2 linked regions of the Homo sapiens genome follow. The protein of the gene in region 2 interacts with the protein of the main gene of each other region in a biochemical or structural test. Each region holds a gene or a part of one and is shown on either strand. Other genes may lie near its edges.

Region 1 (7,030 bases), on a different chromosome or scaffold from region 2:
GTTGATAAGACTGGAAGGTTAAATAGACCAATCCATAATTATTGTTGGAGACTTCAGCACCCGTAAGAATCACCAAACATAGGAGAACTCAACTACACTGTCAGCTGTCAGAATTTGTTCAACATTTACAGAACCCTCTGCTTAACAGCACAATATGCCTTCTTTTCAAGTGCTTAAGGAACACACACCAAGGTAGACCACATCCCAAGCTATAAAACAAACACATTTGAAAGCACTGAAATCATACAGTTTCCTGACCAAAATGTACAGATGAGAATAACAGAAAAATCTGCAAACACATGGAAAGCAAACAATAAACTTCTAAATAACCCAGAGGTCAAAGAAGAAGTCTCAGTGAAAAAAATACATTGGAATGTTAATTATGTCTCATAAAACTGTTATGGCTCTTTATCTTTACAAAATATTTGAACAATGAAGTGAAAATACATCATCAAAATTTGTGAGATGCTGTTAACATGGTGATGAAGGTTAATTTATAGCACTAAATGCTTACCTTAGAAAAGAGGAAAAGTCTAAAATCAATAATTTAAACTCCTACTTCTGGAAACTAGAATAAGAAGAGTGAAATAAACCCAAAACAAGCAAAAGGAAGGACAAGTAACGATAAGAGCAGAGAACAAGGCAGTTAAAAGCAGAAAAACAATAGAGAAAATCAGTGAAACAAAAAGCTGTGTGAAAAGATCAACAAAATTAACAAACCTCTAGCAAGACTGATAAAGGAAAAAGAGAGGACACAAATTACCAGTATGAGGAATGAAATAGGGCATATACTATAGACCATATAGGTATCAAAAGAATCATAAGGAAATCCTATGAACAGTTCTAAACACAATTAAGACATGTAGATGAAAGGGACTAACTTCTCAAAAATCAAACTATCACAACTCATACAGTGTGAAATAGGTAATTTCAGTAGCCCTATATAAGTGTTAAGGAAAGCGAATCCATACTTTTTAAACTTTTTAGATATATGGATGAAAATAAACCTATGAAAAGAGGTTCACATAATTAGTCATTTGGGAAGTGCAAATTAAAACTATCATGAAATATTACTCCATAACCATGAAAAAAAGTAAGTTTTAAAATTATGTCAATAGCAAACTGGCAAGGATATGGAGAAACTAGATCACTTGGACATTGCAGATGGGGATATAAAATGGTACAGACATTCTGGAAAACCAATTGGCTGTGTTCCTGAAAAACTAAACATGTGCCTACTATGTGACCTAGCAATTGTATTCTTGGGCATGTATTCCAGAAAAATGAAAATGTATATTCTCACAAAAACCTGTATACTAATGTTTATAACAGCTCTATTTGTAATAGCCAAAAACTGAAAACAATCAAAATGTCCTACAGTAGGTGAATGGTTGAACAAACTTCGGTACATTTGTACCATGGAATACTCAGCCACAAGAAGGAATAAACTGTAGATACATACAATACAGAGATGGATTTTAAGGTCTTTATGTTGAGTTAAAAAAAAAAAAAACCTGTCTTGGCCAGGCGCGGTGACTCACGCCTGTAATCCCAGCACTTTGGGAGGCTGAGGCGGGCGGATCACGAGGTCAGGAAATCGAGACCATCCTGGCCAACATGGTGAAACCCCATCTCTATTAAAAATACAAAAAAAAAAAAAAAAAAAAGCCTGTCTCAAAAAGTCATATATTGCATGGTTCCATTTATATAACATTCTCAAAAAGACAAAATTATAGAAATGGAGAACCATTAGTTGCCAGGAGTATGGGTGGTGGGAGGACGGGGATGGGTGTGGCTATAACTAGTGACTGGAAAGAAATTGTTGTGATGACCAGTTCTGTATCTTCGTTGTGGTGGTGCTTACATGAACCTACATATGTGATAAAATGAGAGAATCATACACTCCTTATACCAGTGAGAATTTTCTGATTTTGTTATTGTACTATTGTTATATATAATGTCTCTACTGGGGGAAGCTGAGTGGAAGGGCACTTGGGACCTCTCTGTACTATCTTTGCAACTTTCTTTGAATGTATAATTATCTAAAAATTAACTAAAAGTTAGAATGATAAACTCTTAGAATCAGAAAGACCTTGAATGATTTATGTCCAATTTCTGCTTAAAGATGAGAAAGCCCAGAAACACTGTAAAACAGGTTTCCTAATGTGGAGTCTTAAAAAGTGAAGCATCAAAAACAAGATTTACTGATAGTGGTAACTCAGAAAGGTACATTTTTAAGTTGTGAAAATTTGGGTATTTTAGGCTGGGCACAGTAGCTCATGCCTGTTATCCCAGTACTTTGGGAGGCTGAGGCAGGCGGATCACCTGAGGTCAAGAGTTCAAAACCAGCCTGGCCAACATGGCAAAAGCCGTCTCTACCAAAAATAGAAAAATTAGCTGGACGCAGTGGTGCGTCCCTGTAGTCCCAGCTACAGAAGACAGATTCCCACTGTCTTCTTAAAAGGCAAGCTACTTAGAAAGTTGTATTAGGAGATACTATTTGCGTTTGAAACAGAACATTCATCTTAAGTGTTTGTCTTTTTTTTTTTCTTGTTTTTTGTTTTTAAGAACAAAATACTCACTTGAATGAATGACCAGAGTATTAATCACAGTGGTAACTTTTATCATTATAATTCCAGGGAAATCAAAGAAGAAATCTAGAATCTACAGTGTCTCAGATTGAGAAGGAGAAAATGTTGCTACAGCATAGAATTAATGAGTACCAAAGAAAAGCTGAACAGGAAAATGAGAAGAGAAGAAATGTAGAAAATGAAGGTAAATTGTCACTACTTTTGAAAAATGATAGAATTTCTAACACTGTCATGAGGTTGTCTTTAATTTAGTGTCCATGATACATACATGAAGCTACAATCCTAAGACACTTTATAAGCTAAATAACCCAGGTCTCAGGTTAAATTTATAACATATTAAATAGTAATTAAATTAAATATTAAATTACATATTAAAGTAAATAGTAAGTAGCATTTAACTAGAGTAGTGATTGTCATCATGGTGTGCATACTGGAATCTCCTGGGAAGCTTTAAAGAGTACTGATGCCTAAATCCCAGCGATTCTAATTTAATTGGTCTAGATATGTGGCCTGAGTATCATTATTCTTTACAAGCCCCCTAGGTACTTCTAACAAGCAGCTGCGTCTAAGAACTTCTAAACCAGAATTTCTTGTGTTTTAATGCTTGTGTTACAAATATATTTAAAATACCTTTCTACTCCCATTGATGCAGTAATTTCACTTCCATAAGTTATTTCACGTACATACTCCTACTGCAAACTGATATATACACAAGGCTATTCATTGTAGCATTGTTTAAAATGACAAAAAAAATGCAGTCAATGCTGTATATGAAACATAATGTAATACATATATGAAACATAAAGGTAATGAATGCTGTAATAAATTTTAGTACATCTATATGGTAGAATACTATGTGGCTTATAAAAAATAATAAATCATCTCCTTAAATACGGTTATAAAACAGTCTCTAAGACAGATCTTTAAGTGACAGAAACGGATTGCTTGTGTTTAAAACAAGAGTACTTGTCTATATATGCTTAAATTAAATATATATTAGGGAGGAGAGCCAGTTAAGGGAGACTCAGAAGGGGCAAAAATGACTAAATGGAGAAAGGAGGACTTATTCTATACTATCTACCATTTGGTACCTTTTAAATTTTGTATTTTTATTAAGATATTGAATTATCAAGCAATTGAACTCTTGAAAAATAAATAATATTAAAACTAGCTTTATAAGTATACTATCAGTGATCTTATAAAGGGAATAAAGGAGTTTGAGATTTACAACAGTAAGAAGAAATCTTTTTGCACTCTGTATTAGAAGATAATGTTCTACTTTTTAATGAATTTAAAATGCAGGTACTTCCAAATTGGAATTTGGCTTTGGGAGTGGACCTAATGTAGCTGACTATTATGGCCTAAGACTAAATGTCTTTTTTTAAAAAAGGATTTATATGTTTCCCCTATGAAAATGTTGTAATTTCTATATATTATTCTTTCATTTTCTAGTTTCTACATTAAAGGATCAGTTGGAAGACTTAAAGAAAGTCAGTCAGAATTCACAGCTTGCTAATGAGAAGCTGTCCCAGTTACAAAAGCAGGTAAGTGTTTCAAATGAGGTTCCTTTTTAAAAAAATTGTAGATAATTAAATTATATCGTACTTTGGTCAGAAACCTATTTTTTTGCTTTCTTTTTAAATAGCTAGAAGAAGCCAATGACTTACTTAGGACAGAATCGGACACAGCTGTAAGATTGAGGAAGAGTCACACAGAGATGAGCAAGTCAATTAGTCAGTTAGAGTCCCTGAACAGAGAGTTGCAAGAGAGAAATCGAATTTTAGAGAATTCTAAGTCACAAACAGACAAAGATTATTACCAGCTGCAAGCTATATTAGAAGCTGAACGAAGAGACAGAGGTCATGATTCTGAGATGATTGGAGACCTTCAAGGTAATATTTTTTCTTATTGTGGTAAAATATACGTAACATGAAATTTATTATAACATTTTAACCATTTTTATATATACAGTTCAGTGGGATTAAATGCAGTTCACAATGTATGCAACCATCATCATATAAGTGGAATCATACAGTGTTTGTCCTTTTGCGTCTGGCTTTTTTCACTTAGCACAATGTCTTCAAGGTTTATCCATGTTGTGTGTGTCAGATTTTCCTTCCTTTTTAGGGCTCAGTAATATTCCATGGTATGTGTATACCACATTTTGTTCATCCACTCATCTATCAATGGAAGGAATATTTTATAATTTTTATTTTTAATTGTTAAAAATATATAACATAAAATTTACCATCTTGACCATTTTTAAGTCTAAGTTAATATATTTATGATCATATTACCCTCATAAAGAAAATGACTTTGGTGAAACCAGAAATGGTTGCATTCTTTTTTATTGTTTACGTTTTTTTGAGATAGGAACTTGCTCTGTTGCACAGGCTGGAGTGCAGCGGCATGATCACAGCTCACTGCAGCCTTGAACTCCTGAGGTCAAGCAATTCTCCCACCTCAACCTCCTGAGTAGCTGGGACTACAGGTGCATGCCACCATGCCCAGCTAATTTTTGCATTTTTTGTAGAGACGGGGTTTCACCATTTTGCCCAGGCTGGTCTCAAACTCCTGAGCTCAAGCGATCCGCCCACCTCGACCTCCCAAAGTGCTGGCATTATGGGTGTGAGACACCACACCAGGCCAGCATTCTTTCTCTTTTAGAATAATGCCCACATTTGTATCACATTGTAATTTCTTCACCCTCACAGGTACTCCTGCAGGGTATGTAATGTGGATATTTTTCAGTTTTACAGACAAATTAACCAAAAACTTCATTTAAAAACTTGCCTAATTCATAAAGGTTTTACTCAAAGTGAGACTAATCCAGGCAAAGAGGATTATCACTATTAAAACCTAGGAATTCCTCATGCATCGTTGGTAGTAATAGAAAGTCAGTTGCAGAAATAAAATCCCATTACACATTAAAAGTTAGATACTTGGGAATGTTTGAACTGGAGATATTGACAGTCTTTGTGAATCTAAGAGGCAGAAGATTGAGTATAACTAAGTGAATAAATGAACAGTTTTTAAATAGTAATAAAATTCAGTTTGTTTTCAAAAAGATTCCTGGCTTTACCTACTCACATATTTTTCTATTTTCTATTCCTGTTAGCAGCAGCATCCATACTACCTAATCAAAACAAATATGCATAGAAGTTGCCAGATGTCTCAGGAAAAAATTGGAGGGAGGAGTTCTTTTTAACCTTAGTTAGAGATGGGAACATAGTTTCAGGTCCCTTGGGGCTTGATGATTAGCTATAATTCAGTGGAGAGAGGTCAGGGTCAGTTTTTGTGACTAAGGAAACAGAAAATACAATCTCCTGTTGGTTCTTAGCTGAGGAGTGTTGTGCAATCATATTTCTCAGGGACCAGGCTTAAAATAGATCTGATTATAACTAAGAAAGTAACCACTTTATATGTAATAGGAAAGTCACAGACTTCCTTAAATTGTTTTCCTAGGCCTTTTTATACAGCTTATTAGCTGTTTGAAAGTCTCTTCATCTCCCTTCTTTATCTGTAAACCAAGGAGATAAGAATAGGTTACCTCTATAAATCCTTCCAATTCTAAAATTCTTATAAGTTTGTGATCTGTGTTTGACTGAGCTTTAAGCTCCTTGCTTCAGAGGCAGAGATCATCCATGTACTATCAACAGTGGTTTTTAACTGAATCTATTTTTTAGATATCAGTAAAAGTTAAGGAAAATTTATAGCATGATTTATTGTTAGTTTATTCTTTTTCAGAGTTTAATTTGGAACTTAAACGTGAATAAAAGCTCACATACACTAAAATAATGCACACAACTTATGTGAGTTTCAACATACATATAAAAGTGCATTGTGGGTTTTTAAAAAAATCACAATGCTTATATTAGTCTTTTCTGGTCTTTAAGAACTTTCAGGTCTCTCAAGTATAAATTTAGTTTGGGATGGTGGGCTTCTGGCAGAGTCTTGATTGTTATTCATTAATTGAATGTCCTCCATATATGATCTCTGTTGCATAGTCTTTTTTATTTTTTACTTTTTATAACCTTTTAAAGTATAAAAACCATTCTTAGCTTGACATCTGTACAGAAACAGGCTGCAGCCCTGATGTTTGCCAGTACCTGGACTAGTGCAACAGTAAGGCTGCAATTGATTATAGGGAAAGTTTCCAAAAGTTCAGGCTATAGAGGCTTAATGAAAGTGATCAAAATGTTATGGAGGATTGAAATTTTAACTGAATTGATAAGCTTTCATCTAGTAAGTTTATCTCTGATTCTTCAGATTGAAAGGCAAAAATCAATTTTTTTAAATTAACCATTTTTAAAAGTCTTTTTCTGTTTTTTTTAATTGTTTGCTTGGAACCAGAAGTGCTTCAGATTTTGGATTTTGGGTGGTTTGTGAGAATATTTGCATTATGTATACTTACCAGTTGAGTATCCCAAATCTGAAAT
Region 2 (7,768 bases):
TTATTTAAAGACAGATTTGAAACAAGAATTATGAATCATCTTTGTACTTTCTACAATGCCTAGCATGACATCTAACACAAAGGACAGACCTGAAAAAATCATTTAGTGAGGAAATAAATTTCTCCATCTTATGCTGCTTCATCGGCAGGTGAGGAATCCCTCCCCACTCTCCTGTGGACATTGCACCTGGAGGGAATGATGTTAGAACCAAATAGAACTTTGCCTCTGGCTTTTTCAATTATTTCTCTACCTTTCTGTAGTCACTTTTAATCTGGACTCCCCACTTTCTCATTCTGTATCATAACATGTTCTCCAAAAGTCAAGTATCTCAAAGCTACCTCAGCTTTGGAAGTTCAGCCTTCACTATTGGATAGAAGGATGCCATGTGAAAATATTGTCAATTGTCCAGTCAAATACTAACTGGATTAGGGTCAGGGGAAAGGTTGATAAAAATAATTCCAAAGCTAATTGGCAAAATAAAGATATACAAATATCTGCACGAATTCTGAAAAATAAGAGTATTGTGAGGATTCTATCAAAATACCTGACATTAAAATATATGGTAAGGATAAAATCTCTAAAATACCTTGGCTTATAGGCAAGCATAGACAGAATAGAACAGCACAAAGAATCAAGGCAGTATGCAAGAAAATATGCATATATGGTATATTATGACATTGGCATTCAAATCAATGGGGAAACTATATGAATCATTCAACAAATGGTGATAGGACAAATTGATTATAACTTGGAAAAACTAAAGTTAGATTTCTACCTTATGCTCTCACCAAAATATATCTTGGATATTCTAGGTCCTCCAATATATATGTTGAAGGATATTCATTAGAACGTTCTGTGTAATCTTAAAACAAAACAATAGCTTGGAAATGACCCAATGTCTGCCAATTTATGGTACATTCATAGAATTTAATACCACACAGTTCTTGAAAATAATTCAGAAGATCTATACATGCTGATGAGAAAATGTTCAAGCCACACTTTTAGATAACAAAAATGAGTTACAGAAAAAAATATAGAGAGAATCCTTTGAGGGTGTGTGTGTGTGTGTGTGTGTGTAAGAGTGCATTCATAAGCACACACATTTTTTGGAAGGATGTACAAAAATCAAACAATGGTTACCTCTGAGGACTATGAATGGAGGGAGAAAGGAAGACAAATTTTTAGTCTTGACTTTATACCTTTCAGTGCTTTCTGAATTTATTACCTACAGCATGTAACTTTTGTGATAGAAAATTTAACAGAATAAGATAAAATAATTGCCATAGCAAAGAAAGGAAAAGGAAAGATAAGACAAATGCAGAAGGAAGAAAAAGAGAGAAAAAATTATGTAGTAACTTTCAGGTTTTAATATATTTGCAGGATAATTACTAGTGTATATAAAACCTGATTACATTTCTAGCCAAGTTTCTAGTACTATCAACCAGGAGTTCACACAGTTTTAGTCCTGAAAGGGTTTTGCATTAGTTAGTCCAATTACTCTATTCTACAGATGAGCAGACTGGGACTCTAACATCACACTGACAATATCCTCTTTTAGACAGACTCACATTAATGCATGGAAACATCAGCCTCAAAATATACACAGAAAAGCAAGACAAGGGTCCAAAACAGGATGAAGCAGAAGAAACAAAGAGAGATGTCCATTGTTGAGCTACTCTGAGGTGCCAGGCATGATGAACATGTAGGATGCAGCACCTCAGCGAGGTGGAGGCAGGGCCTGGCTGCGGTGACCCAGGCTTACCTTGTAGTGGCTGAGGGCATTTTCAATGGTCAGTTCATGATGAGACATGTGTTCAGGGGACACCAGGCATTCCACACATAGAAGAAGTCTGCTCTCCTCACAGAACCTGCACACCCTCTTCTGGTGGTTGGGGCAGATATAGCCTGTCCCTAGCACCTCCTCAGAACAGGGCTTCCGGCAGAGGGGGCAGCAGAAGACCCCAGAGGCTGAGGCCTTCTCCACATGCTGTGTCAGGCACACTCGACAGAAGAGATGTCCGCAGTTGGTGCTCACGGCCTCCTTCAGGCTCTCCTGGCAGATGGGGCAGACACCCTCCTCCTGGTTGTCCTTCTGCAAAGGGATCATGGCCTCGTTCCTACCCTGTCAGCCTCCTGTTTGCAGGGCCTCCTTCTTCACTGGTCTTCGGAAGGCCTGTTGCCCTCAACAGTCCCAGATAAGAAGGCCCAGTCGGAAGGAGGCAGCCCTGGAGCAGCCTGGGGACAGGACACAGCCTCCAAGTTCAGGCAATTGCCCACTCTCCCTCAAGGGTGCCGTGACATAGACCACACAAACCACAATTCTGCACGAGTTTCAGAAATAGCTCATCAGCTTTGACATGGACCCTGCGGTTTCCTTGTGTTTGTTAAACTTGAAATTATTTTTCATACACCTAGAGGAAGCAAGTGATTCAATAACCAATTCTGTTTTCCTCTTGACAGCTTTCAGTGAATATTTGCACGGGCCCCAAATTAAAAGGGCAAGGTGTCATTGTCATGGCCAAAAGCCAGACCACTATAAACTTACAATTTGAGTCTCCTCTGATTTGCCATCAGTAGAGAGAGTTTGGCAGGAGTTTGGACTGTTTTCTCCTACACTGTCACACCGGGTGGCTCACTGCTGCCCATTATTACCACCAATAATTACAGCAGCATCTCCATCAGCTGGTCATTCTTCCAACCAACATCCCTCCCAGGGTCATATAGATTCCACACTGAAAGAATGAGAAAGAAAACAGGACACAGAACAGACTAGAGACTTGTATAATGTTTGAAGCCACTTTGTTCCTTCCTGTCAAATCACCACCAAAGATGACCCAAAGAAAGAAGTCCCCCGCCACCTGCCACCTCCCTTAGATACTGAGGATTCACTCTTATTCCCTCATGCTGCACCTCTTGCCTAGCCCCACTCCTGAAAAGCTTTCTTAGTATCCTACCTCAATTTCTCCTGCTACAATTTCAGATCATCTTCTCTGGCTCCAGACCTGGAGAGATGGCCAGCAGATGAGTGGTTCTTATATCATGCCAATCATATGTGTTCATATGTCAGTAAATCTCAGGGCGGGGGGTGGAAAGACTCATGCTTTCCTAGAAACACTGAATTACCAGGAAAATTACCTAGGGTAGCTGGAAGGTGAGATGGACTTTGGTGCAGGGCGTGGCTTGTTTGCTCAAGGGGAGGAGGAAGGTCTTGGGCCTTTGACGTCGATATGACAGGAAATGAGACTCAACTAAGAATGGACATCCTAGAACCCCAGCTTATGGAACCCCAGGATCCAGGTGTCACAGAATAATGGCACCCACTCAAGATGCTGGAACATCAAATGCCCACTCCATTGTCTAAGTTCCCTCCAGTCAGGCTAGTCTTGGCATTGAGTTTGAGGGAGCCCCTAAGGGGTGCCACTAATAAGGGCTGTCACTTGAAACTTCTAAGGGTCCAAGACGCTTGTTGAAAACCTCATTTCAGAGCCTCCTCCCTCAATCCCACTTTGCCACTGTTTGCTGTGGGTTGTGTGATCTTGTGAGATATATATATAATTAGTCTTGGCACAGAGCTCCTAAAACCCTTGAACAGATGATCCTTAACTTATGATGGGGTTACGTCCCAGTGAATTCACTGAAGTCAGAAATATTGTAAGGTGAAAGTGTACTCAATACCCCAGTAAACCCATCATAAAGTCAAAAATTTTAAGTTGAATCATCTTAATTCCTGATGCACCTCAACTTACCACATGGTTATGTTCTGATGAGTGTATCTTTTATTATTCATAATAAGCCCTTTTCAACCATACCAGGGTTTATGCTAATGAGGTGACTCTTGGAGGAAGAATGGGGGCTGGTTGGCAGAAGAACCATGTGATTAGAGGGTGGGATCTTTCTTTCTTTCTTTCTTTTTTTTTTTTTTTTTTTGAGACAGAGTTTCACTCTTGTTGCCCAAGCTGGAGAGCAACGGCACTATCTCAGCTCACTGCAACCTCTGCCTCCCAGGTTCCAGCGAATCTCCTGCCTCAGCCTCCCGAGTAGCTGGGATTACAGGTGCACACCACCATGCCCAGCTAATATTTTGTATTTTTAGTAGAGACGGGGTTTCACCATGTTGGCCAGGCTGGTCTCGAACTCCTGACCTCAGGTTACCTGCCTGCCTTGGCCTCCCAAAATGCTGGGATTACAGGCGTGAACCACCACGCCTGGCTGGTTGGAACTTTCAGTCTCACCTCTGACCTCTGGGGAGGGGAGAGGAGCCCAGGGACTGAGTTAATCACCAACAGCCAGTGATTTGATCAATCATACCTAAATAATGGAACCTCTGTAAGATCCTGAACAAAGAGGTTTGGAGAGATTCCAGGTTGGTGAGTGCATCCACATGCTGGGAGGGTGGCACATCCCACACTCCACCGGGGACAGAAGCTCCTGTGCTCAGGATCCTCCCAGAACTTGCCCTTCATCTGGCTGTGAAATTACCATGATCCTGGTGATTTCAAAGACTATGTACATGATCATTTAACACCAAGGCCTTTCAGTTCTTGTCCTGCTCACATCCAATGACCTTTGCTTTTGCCACCCACCCTAGTGGCCACTCTCTTGACCTTGTCAGGATTCAGATTTCACCACCTGAAATTATAAATGTAGGCATTGTACTCACTTATAGTTCTCTTCCTAAGGCATTTCCGACAATGTCTGTTTTTTAACCTTCAATCCTTGACCCCTCCACAATCTACGTTCCTGTCGTATCTCATGAAATAGTATAAGAAACAAAAATGTGGACAGATTAAGTAACCTGCCCAAGGCCACAGTGGTGTAAACATAGAGCTGGGATTCAGATCTGGGTGTCTCTTATCCCAGCCCATGGGCTTCATTACCATAAAATGTCATCTCTCTATATATACCTTTTCTTGCTCTTAGAAAGGATTCAGTAAAAGCTTGATAAATGGATGGATTAATGGACAGATGGAAAGATAGATTGATAATTAGATGTATGGATAGACAGATGAAGAAACAGCACTTTGTACCAACTTATAGTACTGACTATATAGTAACTTCTACTAGTTACTTAGGTACTTTTCTTGATTTTCCTACTGGTTTATTGAGCAACTTGAAGGCAGAAATCCACTGTATTTAACTAGCAGTAGCTTGAGAATGTTTCAAATGTAGAAACCATAAAAGGAAAGAAAGATAAATTCAGCCACATTAAAAAAGACCTGCATGGGGGAAAAAAAACCGTAAGTGCAATGTCAAGAGACAAATGACGAAATACCATTGGAAGAAGAAAAATATTTACAACTGCCATCAAAATCAAAGGGCTAATTACCTTTTATATACAGCTCTTGCAAATAAGAATTTATCAACTACCAAGAAGAAAATTGGGCAGAGGTATCTCAGCAGACATTTCATAGAAAAAGAAATACCAAATGTCTCTAAAGCATATTAAAAGATAATCTCAATCTCATGAAGAAAATACAAATTAAAATAACACTGACATACTATTTTTCCTATCAGATTGACAGAAATCCAAACATTTGGTAACACAGTGTTGGTAAGTGTGTGAGGAAATTGGCACTCCCATACACTGCTGATGGGAATGCCAATTAGTACTCCTCCTTTAGAGGAGTAGGAATTTGAGAATTTCCTCCAAGATTACAAATGTACATTCTCTTTGAGCCAGCAATTCTGATGTTAGAAATTTTACATATATATTCATGCATATGTGAAATAATATATGCATATACCTATTGCATCAATGTTTTAGAAACATTTGCTTCAAATTTTAGAAAAAAAACAAATGTTCATCAACGGAAGTTAAGCTAAATAAACTAGCTACATTCATACAATAGAACATTGTGCAGCCATTAGTAGGGGGTGGGGTGTGGAAGGGAACTTTTGCTATTGGAATAATCTCCAACATAAATTGATACATTAAAAAAAAAAAAGCTTGGCCAGGCATGGTGGCTCACGCCTGTAATCCCAACACTTTGGGAGGCCGAGACAGGTGGATCACGAGGTCAGGAGATCGAGACCATCCTGGCTAACATGGTGAAACCCTGTCTCATTAGCCGGGCATGGTGGCGGGTGCCTGTAGTCCCAGCTACTCGGGAGGCTGAAGTAGGAGAATGGCGTGAACCCGGGAGGTGGAGCTTGCAGTGAGCCGAGATTGCGCCACTGTACTCCAGCCTGGATGACAGAGCCAGACTCTGTCTCGAAAAAAAAAAAAAAAAAAGCTTAATGGTGCCCATCTCACATCAGACAGGAACAAAGCAACCCCCTGTTTATCCCAGCTTGGCTTCTGGTCTATGCCCATGCCTGGTTTATGCTTTGGACACATAGATTACTGATTTTAAAAAATAAAAATAAATTAAATTTAAAAGCAAGGTACAGAACAGTGTGTATAATATGCTATTATTTGCACAAATCGGGGAAGAATAAATATTCTTATTTGCTTTTTATGCAAAGAACATCTCTGGAAGAATATATCAATGAACTAGTAAAATTTGCTTCTGGAGAGAGAAACTAGATGTGTGGAAACCAGGGGCAAGAGGGAGACTTTTTCCTGTGTTTTTAAAATTTTGAGCCAGCAAATGTGCCATCTATCTAAACAATTACCTAAATTTTAAAATGTTTAAGAAGAGGATGGTCAGAATGAAAGGAATTCTGGACTAGTCAAAGAATCTGGATTATGGTCCTAATTGTGGAGATTTGTAGCTTCATGTTCAGGGGCAGCCACAACTTCAGCCTCCTTTACAAGAAAGTGGACAAAATGTCATAGCTGGAAATGGATGTGCTTCATAAACTACAAACTAATGCGCAACTGTCAGGGTCCTTATTTCCCTGAGTCAGCCTATTCGGCATAGCTCCTTGAATATATTAGGTGCTCAGTAACTGTTTTAAAGGAGTGATCTTATCTAATTTCTCATGCTTTAAAAATACTGGAGCCAAGAGTCAGGTGATTTTTGTCTTCTCTCTCTCCTTTATGACTCTTAATTGCCTCTGTTTTGACATTTCCCAGCAGGGAAGACCTAACTCCTACCTCTTTCACACAGCTGCTCCAAACCCTTCACATCAGTGGAAGCCCAGCTCAAGTCCCAGTTTCCTGAATGAAACTTTCCTAACAAGTCAGTCTTCATTCTGATGAATGGGGGCTGAGACCTAGCCCAGAGGTTGCTTGCCAAGCTGTGGGCTCTGGCTCAGGGCAGCAATGGCCCCAAGAAAGTGAACTGATCCATCCTAATTTTCACAAAGGTGTCAGAGGGGCCTGCAGGTTCTACATGGATCTCTCTTTCCTAAATCACCGTCTCATTTATTACCATTTGATTTTTGCCAACTTCCCTGGCTTTGGCTCACATTTAGCTTCATGAGGGATAGGACTATGTCTTTCTGTCTTTCCATACTCTCCTATGCCTATCCCAGGGCTGGGCACCCTAAACCACTCTCTAAGGGTCTCCAACTAAGTCCTAAACTCAAATCCCAGCGGTATTTTCTCAGTTCACATCCAAACTGATGACTCAAACTTTAGATCATCAGCAGTCCCCTCCTTAAAATTCTCCTCTCCACTGGCTCCTGGGTTCCCTCTCACTTATTTGATCATCCATAAAAGGAGATCTACTCTATCTTAGTGCAGCGAGGTGGAGCTACGTGGACTTCACAGGCGGAGTGTCCGGATTCAGATTCCCATTCTACCGATGCACAGTTGTTAGCACTATGCAGATCCTGTAACCTCCCTGAGGCCCGATGCCAGCTTGGTATTACTATCCCTATT

What was found.
Region 1: the proteins of TRIM40 (region 2) and ROCK1 form a complex in vitro, tested with the Homo sapiens proteins (one study listed by BioGRID).

What each region holds. Positions count from the first base shown.
Region 1 is NC_000018.10:21,003,804-21,010,833, reverse strand, and holds part of ROCK1 (rho-associated protein kinase 1), read left to right. Parts: intron 1-2,639; coding exon 2,640-2,775; intron 2,776-4,043; coding exon 4,044-4,135; intron 4,136-4,236; coding exon 4,237-4,483; intron 4,484-7,030. UniProt on the Homo sapiens protein: Protein kinase which is a key regulator of the actin cytoskeleton and cell polarity.
Region 2 is NC_000006.12:30,131,376-30,139,143, reverse strand, and holds the start of TRIM40 (E3 ubiquitin ligase TRIM40), read right to left. Parts: upstream 3,005-7,768; 5' UTR 2,955-3,004; intron 2,733-2,954; exon of another isoform or gene 2,412-2,732; 5' UTR 2,108-2,411; coding exon 1,763-2,107; intron 1-1,762. UniProt on the Homo sapiens protein: E3 ubiquitin-protein ligase that plays a role in the limitation of the innate immune response. Mediates inhibition of the RLR signaling pathway by ubiquitinating RIGI and IFIH1 receptors, leading to their proteasomal degradation.